Linked DNA regions of Homo sapiens: region 1 is linked to region 2. The links come from fine-mapping of genetic effects on plasma protein levels. Region 2 holds a variant in brackets. A gene starts in the other region. All regions are shown on their reverse strands.

Region 1 (4,034 bases), not on the chromosome of region 2:
ACCATTTTAGCCCTTTCCCTCATGTACTTCCACCCCACCTACCTTACAGTCTAGCACTAAACTTCATCTCCAACCCCCATCCCCATATTCCTTGGGAAGGTTGGACCCAGGTGTCCCTAACCTGGGGAGGAGGGGGGAAAAGGCAGATCAGTGGCAAGCCCAGATGCATGCATGGGAAATAAACTGTTCTTAGCAGTTTCTCACCCCAAGAAGAGAAAGAGCCAGAGCTCTAGGGATCGATGACCAAGAAAGGGGAAGCCCTGCGGGGGGAGAGGAAACAAGGATCTGGGCTCTCCTCTGATGTCTGACCTGGCCTAAAATCAGGCAAGCAAAGTCTGATCGGGGTGACTGGTCCAGGGGGTTGAGGTTGGCATTACCTGATAGCAGGAGACAAGGACACCCAGAGGAAGGGGGACACAACCTTCTTGGTTCCAGCTGGGGGGGCAGGCAGGCAGGCGGGCAAGGGTCACCTGCAGGGAGGGGGTAGGGGAGGGACACTACCTTAAAGGGGCAGGTCTGCTTTGCCTGGGCCTCCTTACCTGTAACCTATTTTCCTTCCACCTTCTAGGGACACCCCACCTTCCCAAATGCCTAGTTGCTAACCTCTTCCTTTTCCCACAGAAAGCAAAGGAGTCCAACACAGAGTAGAGTGGTAACATTTATTAGGAAGGAGAGACTTCAGTTAGACTCCCATGTCTCACACAGAAGAAACAGATGGTAACTGCCATTTCTTTCTTTCTTTCTTTCTTTCTTTCTTTTTTTTTTGAGATGGAGTTTCGCTCTTATTGCCCAGGCTGGAGTGCAATGGTGCAATTTCGGCTCACCTCAACCTCCGCCTCCCGGTTTCAAGAGATTCTCCTGCCTCAGCCTCCTAAGTAGCTGGGATTACAGGCATACGCCACCATGCCTGGCTAATTCTGTATTTTTAGTAGACACGGGGTTTCTCCATGTTGGTCAGGCTGGTCTTGAACTCCCGACCTCAGGTGATCCGCCCACCTCGGCTTCCCAAAGTGCTGGGATTACAAGCGTGAGCCACTGCGCCCAGCCAGTAACTGCCATTTCTAAAGAGGAAAGAGAGCAGGCAGAGGGTCCTGACTCCCAGGGGACAGGTAGTTCAGCTGGACAATGAGGGAGTATGAGATTAGGGTGGATAAGGACACTGCTCACCACCCTCCACTGAAGTTCAGTGGCTAAAATACTGCTACACCAGCCAATCAGTGGAAGGCTATCTTGCTCTCCAGGGGACACTTGGGATGTGGTTGGTGGCAGGAAGAAAGAATGTCATGCTATCTCTTGCTGCTCCTCCGGGTTTCTTTGCCGTTACTAACAGGGTTGCTGGAAGGGCCAGGCGGGCCTGCAGGTGTGTGGTTGGGCTGGCTTCGAGTGATTCGGGTGCTGGGTGGGTGGGAGGGAGTATGAGGGGGATGTGGGCCACCACCGGGACCTGGTGGGGCACTCAGTCCATTCCCATTCTGGTTCTCAGAGGCTAATTGTGGGAGGAGAAGAAACAAAGGAATTAGTTAACATAGGAGAGGGGTCCATCCCAAGGCCTGTCTCCATGCCCCAAAGAGTGGCACAGTCTTCACCATGCACAACTGCATCTTAATGCCAACTGGACCAAATGCAAAAGACTGTGGGCTGCGAGTATGAATGGAGCTCCAGAGAAGACTTACACGATCATTTAGGAAGTTGCTACATGAACCTCGGTACGGTATTTTTCTCTTGTAGTTATCTCACTATTATTGGGAATCAGACCTAGAATTAGCTGTTTAGTTCTAGGCTCAGGGACCTCTGACAAAAATGCCCCTTTACTGGGCCAGGCGTGGTGGCTCACACCTGTAATCTCAGTACGGTGGGAGGCTGACGCGGGTGGATCACGAGGTCAGGCATTCGAGACCAGCCTGGCCAACATAGTGAAACCCCGTCTCTACTAAAAATACAAAAAATTAGCTAGGTGTGGTGGCAGGCGCCTGTAATCCCAGATACTCAGGAGGCTGAGGCAGGAGGGTCGCCTAAACCTGGGAGGCAGAGGTTGCAGTGAGCCGAGATTGCACCATTGCACTCCAGCCCGGGTGACAGTGTGAGACTCCTTCTCAATTAAAAAAAAAAAAAAGGCCCCTTCACCAAAAGTGATTATAAAACTGGAGAAGCATGGCAAGGGGAAGGGCCTGAAGTCTCTGCGTTAAAATATGAGGCACTTAAAAAAAAGGTGTGTATGAGTGTACGATAATGATAATGTTCATTTTAGAAAATATAGATAACCATCAGTGAAAAGATTATTATTATTTTTTATTTATTTATTTTTTTGAGTTGGAGTTTCGCTCTTGTTGCCCAGGCTGGAGTGCAATGGAGCGATCCCAGCTCACTACAACCTCCGCCTCCCAGGTTCAAGCAATTCTTCTGCCTCAGCCTCCTGAGTAGCTGGGATTATAGGCATGAGCCACCACGCCTGGCTAATTTTGTATTTTTAGTAGAGATGGGGTTTCTCCATGTTGGTCAGGCTGGTCTTGAACTCCCAGCCTCAGGTGATCCACCCACCTCGGCCTCCCAAAGTGCTGGGATTACAGGCGCGAGCCACTGCGCCCAGCTAGTGAAAAGATTATTACACGTAATCTTACCCACCAAAGCTAATAACAAGTCACATTTTTGTGTATATAAATATTTATTTTTTAATTTTTACTGTTTTAGAGATGAGGTCTCACTTTGTCACTCAGGCTGGAGTGTAGTGGTGTGATCATAGCTCACTGCAGCCTCAAACTCCTTGCTCAAGCAATGCTCCTGCCTCAGCCTCCCAAGTAGCTAGGATGATGGGTGTGCACCGCTGCGTCTGGCTTATATTTTCAATGTTTGAAGCCAGGTGTGTGGGATGATTTGTTTGAGCTCTCACAACTCTGGACATACCACTGTCATTGAACTTAACCATGGCGTATTATAATCATTATCTCTCTCCTGTATAAACCACAAGCCCCTAAAGGCAGGTAGTGTGTTTTATTCCACGGCAAATAGTAGGTGCTCTAGAAACATTTGTTATATGAAGGCAGAGGTTTGCTTCTTGCATACAGTAGGGACTATGAACCCTAAATGGCATGGAAGTTATAGCCTAGTGGTTCTTTTTTTTTTTTTTTTGAGAAAGAGTCTCACTGTCGCGCAAGCTGGAGTGCAGTGGCATGATCTCAGCTCACTGCAACCTCCACTTCCCAGGTTCAAGCCATTCGCCTGCCTCGGCCTCCCAAGTAGCTGGGATTACAGGCTCCTGCCACCACATCTGGCTAATTTTTGTATTTTTAATAGAGATGGGGTTTCGCCACGTTGGCCATGGCTGGTCTTGAACTCCTGACCTCAGGTGATCTGCCAGCCTTGGCCTCCCAAAGTGCTGAGATTATAGGCATGAGCCACTGCGCCCAGCCAGTCTAGTTCTTAAACCATATCTCTACTGAACCCTGCTGCTCCACTGGACTAAGATATCTGCAGCCCATGGCTGGGCGCGGTGGCTCACGCCTGTAATCCCAGCACTTTGGGAGGCTGAGGTGGGTAGATCGCCTGAGCTCAGGAGTTCGAGACCAGCCTGGGCAACATGGTGAAACCCCGTCTCTACTAAAATACAAAAAATTAGCAGGGCATGGTGGCGTGCACCTGTGATCCCAGCTACTCAGGAGGCCGAGACAGGAGAATCACTTGAACCCAGGAGGCAGAGGTTGAAGTGAGCCGAGGTCACACCATTGCACTCCAGCCTGGGTGACAGAGACTCCATCTCAAAAAAAAAAAAATTAGCCGGGCATGGTGGCAGGTGCCTGTAATCCTAGTTACTTGGGAGGCTGAGGCAGGAGAATCACTTGAACCTGGGAGGCGGAGGTTGCAGTGAGCCGAGATCACGCCATTGCACTCCAGCCTGGTTGACAAGAGCGAGACTTCGTCTCAAAAAAAAAAAAAAAAAAAAAAAAAGGGGTCTGGGAGAATTGGGTGAAGGAGGATACACTGAGAAAAGAGAGATTTGGAAAAGGAATGAGGGAAATGCATCTTTCTAGGCTGAGGAG
Region 2 (8,530 bases):
GTCCCCGGTAAGATCTCGGGCACTGGGCGGTGGGGCTGTGCCCACGGCCTTCAACCCGACTCTCCGCCCTTCTCCACCCCAGCAGGAGACAGTCCCTGAATTCCCCTGCACATTCCTTCCCCCGACCCCGGCCCCTACACCGCCCCGGCCACCTCCAGGCCCGGCCACATTGGCCCCTTCCAGGCCCCTGCTTGTCCCCAAAGCGGAGCGGCTCTCACCCCCAGCGCCCAGCGGTAAAGAGAGGGGTTGCAGGGATTGGGGGAATCTAGGGGATGAGGGGAAGAGGAGGAAGAAGAAGGGGACTGGGTCTGGGGCCAGATGAGAGGAAGGGGGCAATGGGGACCCTTTCCCCTGGGTCGGTCTTTCTGTGGGTCTGTCTGTCCCTACCACAGGCAGTGAACGGCGGCTGTCAGGGGACCTCAGCTCCATGCCAGGCCCTGGGACTCTGAGCGTCCGTGTCTCTCCCCCGCAACCCATCCTCAGCCGGGGCCGTCCAGACAGCAACAAGGTGGGCACCATCCCCCACCCCAAGATCGGTTTGCTACCCCCAGGCCCTCCTGGGCTCCTTCCTAGGCTCACCCAACTCTCTGCTCCCCGAGACCGAGAACCGGCGTATCACACACATCTCCGCGGAGCAGAAGCGGCGCTTCAACATCAAGCTGGGGTTTGACACCCTTCATGGGCTCGTGAGCACACTCAGTGCCCAGCCCAGCCTCAAGGTGAGCCCCGGGCCCAGGCTGGCACCCCCAAAACCACAGGGCCCCTTTCTGGACCCCCCCCACCCAAAACTCAATTGCAGGGGAGTGCTCCAGACACTCTTGCCTCCTCCCATCCCAGTGCCTCAGTGGGTCCCAGGGTACAGCCTCTAGCACCTGCCTGAGCCCCCCTGGTGGCGTCTGCAGGTGAGCAAAGCTACCACGCTGCAGAAGACAGCTGAGTACATCCTTATGCTACAGCAGGAGCGTGCGGGCTTGCAGGAGGAGGCCCAGCAGCTGCGGGATGAGATTGAGGAGCTCAATGCCGCCATTAAGTAGGCAGGGTCCAGGCGGGTGCTGGGACCAGGGGGCCATGCCGCCTTACCCCCAGCCCCTGACCCCTGCCCTGCCCCCAGCCTGTGCCAGCAGCAGCTGCCCGCCACAGGGGTACCCATCACACACCAGCGTTTTGACCAGATGCGAGACATGTTTGATGACTACGTCCGAACCCGTACGCTGCACAACTGGAAGTTCTGGGTGGTATCCTCCCTCAAGCCCATGGCTGGGGGGCTGCAGGGGCTGTGGCAGGGTGAGACCAGGCTGGGCCTGGGATGGAGGCCTAGCTCTCCAGGCCGGGCAGGCTCAGAGCTGCTCCCAGGTGACAGGCTCTGGCTCTGCCCCCTGCTTCCATGCCCTGGCCATCTTGGCCAGCAAAATTGCCCAGGGATGGGGGGCTGGGAGCAGAGAGGGAAACTGAGGGAGGAGTCCTTGGGTAAGGGGAGCCTTGGCCCTGACCTCAGGAAGCCCCGAGGGCAGTTTGGGAGAATCTGAACTCTGGAGTGAGGACTACAGAAGACTTGGAATCCACTCCCTGATCTGGCTCAGGGGTCAAGTTCTTGACTGAGCCCAGGCAGGGAGCTCAGGGATGGGGGATGGTTCAGCACACAGTAAGGGCCGTGGAGGGGCAAGGAGGAGGGGACTGAGAGGCAGAGAGCTGGGAAGGTCTTGGCAGGACAGAAGTAGGGACTGCAAGCCAGGTGCGGTGGCTCACGCCTGTCATCCCAGCACTTTGGGAGGCCGAGGCAGGTGGATCACTTGAGGCCAGGAGTTCAAGACCAGACTGGCCAACATGGCAAAACCCCATCTCTACTAAAAATACAAAAATTAGCCAAGCGTGGTGGCATGTGCCTGTAATCCCAACTACTCGGGAGGCTGAGGCAGGAGAACAGCTTGAACCTGGGAGGTGGAGGTTGCAGTGAGCCAAGATTGTGCCACTGCATTCCAGCCTGGGCAGCAGAGTGAGACTCTGTCAAAAAAAAAAAAAAAAAAAGTCCGAGCACAGTGGCTCACGCCTGTAATTCCAGCACTTTAGGAGGCTGAGGTGGGTGGATCACGAGGTCAGGAGTTCGAGACCAGCCTGACCAACATAGCGAAACCCCGTCTCTACTAAAAATACAAAAATTAGCCAGGTGTGGTGGCGCACACCTGTAATCCCAGCTACTCAGGAGGCTGAGGCAGGAGAATTGCTTGAACCTGGGAGGCAGAAGTTGCAGTGAGCTGAGATCGTGCCACTGCACTTCAGCCTGGGTGACAGAGCGAGACTCCGTCTCAAAAAAAAAAAAAGAAGAAGTAGGGGCTGCAACATGAGTCATTGGGGTTCAACGTTAGACAGTGTCCAGGCCCTTTCTTCCCCTGGTTTGAACTGGGCATCAGGGCTCCACGTGGTGTGGGGGGACCAGCTGGACCACAGGCAGCTCCTTGACCTGGGCCCAGTTCAGCATCCTCATCCGGCCTCTGTTTGAGTCCTTCAACGGGATGGTGTCCACGGCAAGTGTGCACACCCTCCGCCAGACCTCACTGGCCTGGCTGGACCAGTACTGCTCTCTGCCCGCTCTCCGGCCAAGTACGTGAGCCATCTCCCTGCCTGCTAGAGGGACCCAGCCTCGGGGGTGGAGGGAGCATTCCACCCTGCTTAGATCCCACATCCAGCTTGCCATCAACACAGCCTAGGGTTGTGGCCACCCCGCATCCCCCAGATGGTCCTCTGGCCACCAGACGCCTGTAGACAGAGGTTCTAGGAGGGGGTGACAGTCTTGCCAACTAATACCTCCCCCTATCCCTTTGGTTCCACATCCAAGGGTAGGGCCCTGACCCCAGGAAGTGTCTGTCTCTCTCTCTCTGTCTCCCACCCAGCTGTCCTGAACTCCCTACGCCAGCTGGGCACATCTACCAGTATCCTGACCGACCCGGGCCGCATCCCTGAGCAAGCCACACGGGCAGTCACAGAGGGCACCCTTGGCAAACCTTTATAGTCCTGGCCAGACCCTGCTGCTCACTCAGCTGCCCTGGGGGCTGCTTTCCCTGGGCACGGGCTCCAGGGATCATCTCTGGGCACTCCCTTCCTGCCCCAGGCCCTGGCTCTGCCCTTCCCTGGGGGGTGGAGCAGGGTCCAGGTTTCACACTTGCCACCTCCTGGAGGTCAAGAAGAGCAGAGTCCCCGTCCCTGCTCTGCCACTGTGCTCCAGCACCGTGACCTTGGGTGACTCGTCCGCTGTCTTTGGACCGCTGTGTTTCAATCTGCAAAATGGGGATGGGGAAGGTTCAATCAGCAGATGACCCCCAGGCCTTGGCAGCTGTGACATTGGGGGCCTAGGCTGGCAACTCCGGGGGCTCAACGGTGGAAAGAGGAGGATGCTGTTTCTCTGTCACCTCCACTTGCTCCCCGACAGGTGGGGCACAGACCTCTGTTCCTGAGCAGAGAAGCAGAAAAGGAGGTTCCCTCTCTCTGCTCCTTCACTGCTGACCCAGAGGGGCTGCAGGATGGTTTCCCCTGGGAGAGGCCAGGAGGGCCTGATCCCAGGAGACACCAGGGCCAGAGTGACCACAGCAGGGCAGGCATCATGTGTGTGTGTGTGTGTGGATGTGTGTGTGTGGGTTTTGTAAAGAATTCTTGACCAATAAAAGCAAAAACTGTCTGCTGGTTTGTTGGTGTGCTGGTCAGTGTCTCACACTGGGATGGAGAGAGAGCCTGTTGGCAGTGGGAAGTGGCTTTGCAGAGGGCCTGGGCATTTACTCTGAGCTGGAAGCAGCTGGAGGGCTTTGAGTGGAGGTGGGACAAGATCAGATGTAGTGGTGGCGAGCGCCTGTAGTCCCAGCTACTCAGGAGGCTGAGGCAGGAGGATCGCTTGAGCCCAGGAGTTCGAGGCTGCAGTGAGCTATGATAGCACCACTGCACTGTAGAGTGGGCAACAGAGTGAGACCCTGTCTCAAATAACAACAACAAAAAAGGCTGGGCACAGTGGCTCACACCAGTAATCCCAGCACTTTGGGAGGCCAAGGCGGGAGGATCATAGACCTCATCTCAGTAATAAAAAAGAGAAAAATAAATAAAAGAAAATCGGATGTAACTTTTTTTTTTT[G/TG]AGACGGAGTCTCGCACTGTCACCCAGGCTGGAGTGCAGTGGCCCGATCTCGGCTCACTGCAAGCTCTGCCTCCTGGGTTCATGCCATTCTCCTGCTTCAGCCTCCCAAGTAGCTGGGACTACAGGCACCCGCCACCACGTCCAGCTGATTTTTTTTTTTTTTGTATTTTTAGTAGAGACGGGGTTTCACCGTGTTAGCCAGGATGGTCTCGATCTCCTGACCACGATTGTGATCCACCCACCTCAGCCTCCCAAAGTGCTGGGATTACAGGCGTGAGCCACCGCGCCCTGCCAGATGTAACTTTAAAAAAAAAAATTTTTTTTTTTTTGAGACAGAGTCTCGCTCTGTTGCCCAGGCTGGAGTGCAGTGGCGCAATCTCGGCTCACTGCAACCTTCGCCTCCCGGGTTCAAGCGATTCTCCTGCCTCAGCCTCCTGAGTAGCAGGGATTACAGGTGCGCACCACCATGCCCAGCTAATTTTTGTATTTTTAGTAGAGACGGGGTTTCACCATGTTGGTCAGGCTGGTCTTGAACTCCCGACCTTGTGATCTGCCCTCCTCAGCCTCCCAAAGTGCTGGGATTACAGGTGTGAGGCTGCCGCGCCCAGACAAAAAAATTTTTCTTATAAGAATAGAGTCAGCAGCCGGGTGTGGTGGCTCACGCCTGTAATCCCAGCACTTTGGGAGGCCGAGGCAGGCGGATCACAAGGTCAGGAGTTCGAGACCAGCCTGGCTAATATGGCAAAACCCGGTCTTTACTAAAAATACAAAAATTAGCCACATGTGCTGACACACGCCTGTAATCCCAGCTACTCAGGCTGGTCTTGAACTTTTGGGTTCAAGCAATGCTCCCGCCTTGGCCTCCCAAAGTGCCAGGATTACAGGCATGAGCCATGGCGTCTGGCCAGATGTAACTTTTTTACAGGAATCCCCTGGGTGCTGAGTTGAGACTAGGTGGATGCAGGGAGACCAGTTAGAGGACAGTTGCAGTCATCCAGGTGAGAGGTGATAGATTTGCTTCCTGGAGCTCCTCCCTCCATGGCCAGGAGACAGTTTGGAGAGGCTCGCTACCTTCAGAGTTGGAAGAAGGCAGAGCTGGGACCAAGGAGTGGAACCGACAGGGCATCCACTGGAACCACCCAGAAGGAGAATGTGCTCCCTTGGCGGGGCAGGTATGGAGGGTAGTGACCTCCCCGCTATGAGAGGTATGCATGCAGAGAGTGGATGGCCACTTAGTTGGGATGTCTTAGAAAAAACTGACAGCGGCCTGTGCGGTTGCTCACGCCACCCAACACTTTGGGAGGCCGAGGCGGGTAGATCACCTGAGGTCAGGAGTTCCGGACCAGCCTGGCCAACTTGGTGAAATCCCGTCTCTACTAAAAATACAAAAAAAATTAGCCGGGCATGGTGGCAGGTGCCTGTAACCCAGCTACTCGGGAGGCTGAGGCAGGAGAATCCCTTGAACCCAGGAGGTGGAGGTTGCAGTGAGCAGAGATTGCGCTACTCCACTCCAGCCTGGGTGACAGAGTGAGACTTCATCTCAAAAAAACATAAAAACAAAAAATAAAAAAACTGATCCTTCAGATGGGGCTGGGGTAGAAGGCCTCAGAGGCCCCAATATTTACTGAGTGCCTGCTATGGACTAGGCTGTGGTCTTGGCTCTGCAGATGCTGTTCACTACAGTATCTCTCTCTTTGTGGAGCTGACATTCCAGCCTGGCATGTTGGAATCCTCTCACGTTTCAGACCTTCTGGAGACATTTGCAGGACTGATGTATTCATGTTTATTTTTCATAGAGACAGGGTCTTGCTATGTTGCCCAGGCTGGTCTCACACTCCCTACCGCAAGTGATCCTCCCACCTTGGCCTTAGGCTTCCTGAAGTGCTGGGATTACAGGTGGCAGCCACCGTGCCTGGCCCATTTGCAGGATTTAAACAGCCTAAAGTATCTTCCATAGGTTTTCAGTTTCTCTCGTTCGTGCATAAGAAGAAGGAGAATCGCTGCCCGCAGATCTAGTATGGACTATGTGCCAAGCACTCCTATAAGCACTTTAGATTTTTGTTGTTGTTGTTATTTTTATTTTTAGTAGAGACAAGTTCTCACTAAGTTCCCCAGGCTGGTCTTCAGCTCCCAAGCTCAAGGGATCCTCCTGCCTTGGCCTCCCAAAGTGCTGAGATTACAGGCATGAACCACCACACCTGGCCACTTTATGTATATTAACTCACTTAATCCTCACAACACCTACCTCGTAGGCTTGCTGTGAGAACCTAAAAGGGTAAATATACACATATAGAGATTTACAGATTTATACATATATTTATAAATCTGTAAAATGGGGATAATAATTATATATTATATATATATTATGTTTGTATATTATGTTTAATAATATACAAAGATTATATTTATACATTATATTTAATATATTTTTATATATTATATTATATTTATAGTTTATATAAAATATGTATGAGTTAATATATATTCTACATATAAAGATATAGATTATATATAAATTTTTATATAGAGAATAAAGATTAAATAATTATATGTTAATCTATATATCTATATAATCTTTTTTTTTTTTTTTGAGACGGCGTCTCGCTCTGTCACCCAGGCTCGAGTGCAGTGGCGGGATCTCACCTCACTGCAAGCTCCGCCTCCCGGGTTCACACCATTCTTCTGCATTAGCCTTCCAGTAGCTGGGACTACAGTTGCCCACGACCACGCCTGGCTAATTTTTTGTATTTTTAGTACAGACGGAGTTTCACCGTGTTAGCCAGGATGGTCTCGATCTCCTGACCTCGTGATCCGTCTGCCTTGGCCTCCCAAAGTGTTGGGATTACAGGCGTGAGCCACTGCGCCCAGCCATATCTATATAATCTTTATATATAATATATAATATTACATTAATTTATATATTACAATTTGTATAACCTATACAATCTTTATATACAATATACTTTATATATTATATATAATATTTATATACAATATACTTTATATATTATATAAATCTTTATATACAATATACTTTATATATTATATATAATCTTTATATATTATAAATATATAGTTTTATATTTATAATATATAAATATATTACATTTTATAACTATATAGTTTTATATTTATAATATATAAATATATTACATTTTATAAAAATATATTTTTATATTTATAAAACCATATAAATATATTTTTATATTTATATTAATAAAACTATATAAATATATTTTATATTTATATTAATAAAACTATATAAATATATTTTATATTTATATCAATAAAACTATATAAATATATTTTATATTTATATCAATAAAACTATATAAATATATTTATATTTATATCAATAAACATAAATATATTTTATTTTTATATTAATAAATATAAATATATTTTATTTTTATATTAATAAATATAAATATATTTTATTTTTATAATAAATATAAATATATTTTATTTTTATATTAAATATAAATATATTTTATTTTTATATTAAATATAAATATATTTTATTTTTATATTAAATATAAATATATTTTATTTTTATATTAATAAATATAAATGTATTTTATATTTATAATATAAATGTATTTTATATTTATAATATAAATGTATTTTATATTTATAATATAAATGTATTTTATATTTATAATATAAATGTATTTTATATTTATAATATAAATGTATTTTATATTTATAATATAAATGTATTTTATATTTATATTATAAATGTATTTTATATTTATATTATAAATGTATTTATATTATAAATGTATTTTATATTTATATTATAAATGTATTTATAATATAAATACATTTATAATATAAATATATAATAAATATAAATATATAAATATATAAAATATATTGTTTATAATATATAGATTATATATAATATATAAGTTAAATATATTATATTTAATTTATATCTAATTTATCTATAAATTATATATAATATATACTTTAACAAATAAAGTACATATTTGTTTATAATGTATAAATATATTATAAATATATAATATAATTTATTATATATTATAATTAATATAATTATATATTACGATATAAATACATAATTATAATATAGTATATATGTATAATATATAATATGTAATATATAATTATATATTATAAATATACAATATAATTATATATACGTATTAAATACATATAAATATAATTATATATAATAGATAATATATATAATTTATAATATATATCATATAAATTATATATAATATATAATATAATATATAATATAATATATAATTATATATTATAATATATATAATATATAGTTATTATTCAGAGTTAGAAGAAGGCAGAGCTGGAACCGAGGCATGGAAGCTACAGGGCATTATATATATTTTATATATATTATATAATTATATACATTATATATAATAT

Direction of the effects. Positions count from the first base shown, and alleles are read on the strand shown. Strength reflects both the effect of a copy and how common the allele is.
In carriers of allele G in region 2, the plasma level of the protein whose gene starts at base 449 in region 1 tends to be higher than with TG alone (weak association).

The links. PIP is the chance, under the fine-mapping model, that this variant and not a neighbour inherited with it causes the effect. The UK Biobank Pharma Proteomics Project read protein levels with antibody pairs (Olink). The fine-mapping took linkage between variants from a reference panel, not from the people measured, so its PIPs are less certain.
Region 1: it holds the start of SLC39A5, and the variant in region 2 is fine-mapped to the plasma level of the SLC39A5 protein (UK Biobank, PIP above 0.99).

What each region holds. Positions count from the first base shown.
Region 1 is chr12:56,226,466-56,230,499 of GRCh38, reverse strand. SLC39A5 (solute carrier family 39 member 5) reads right to left here and starts at 449. Exons shown (of 13, transcript NM_173596.3): 1 at 378-449; 2 at 205-260. NABP2 (nucleic acid binding protein 2) reads right to left here. Exons shown (of 7, transcript NM_024068.4): 7 at 646-1,486. The coding sequence ends at 1,287.
Region 2 is chr7:73,588,342-73,596,871 of GRCh38, reverse strand. It overlaps MLXIPL (MLX interacting protein like), which reads left to right. Exons shown (of 17, transcript NM_032951.3): 10 at 1-7; 11 at 83-233; 12 at 393-508; 13 at 600-719; 14 at 903-1,030; 15 at 1,112-1,235; 16 at 2,469-2,598; 17 at 2,889-3,670. The coding sequence ends at 3,007. Among named protein-coding and RNA genes, the nearest start is that of TBL2, 14 kb to the right of the region's middle. RefSeq lists an enhancer at 8,301-8,530. The variant G/TG (reference allele first, on the strand shown) is at 4,115.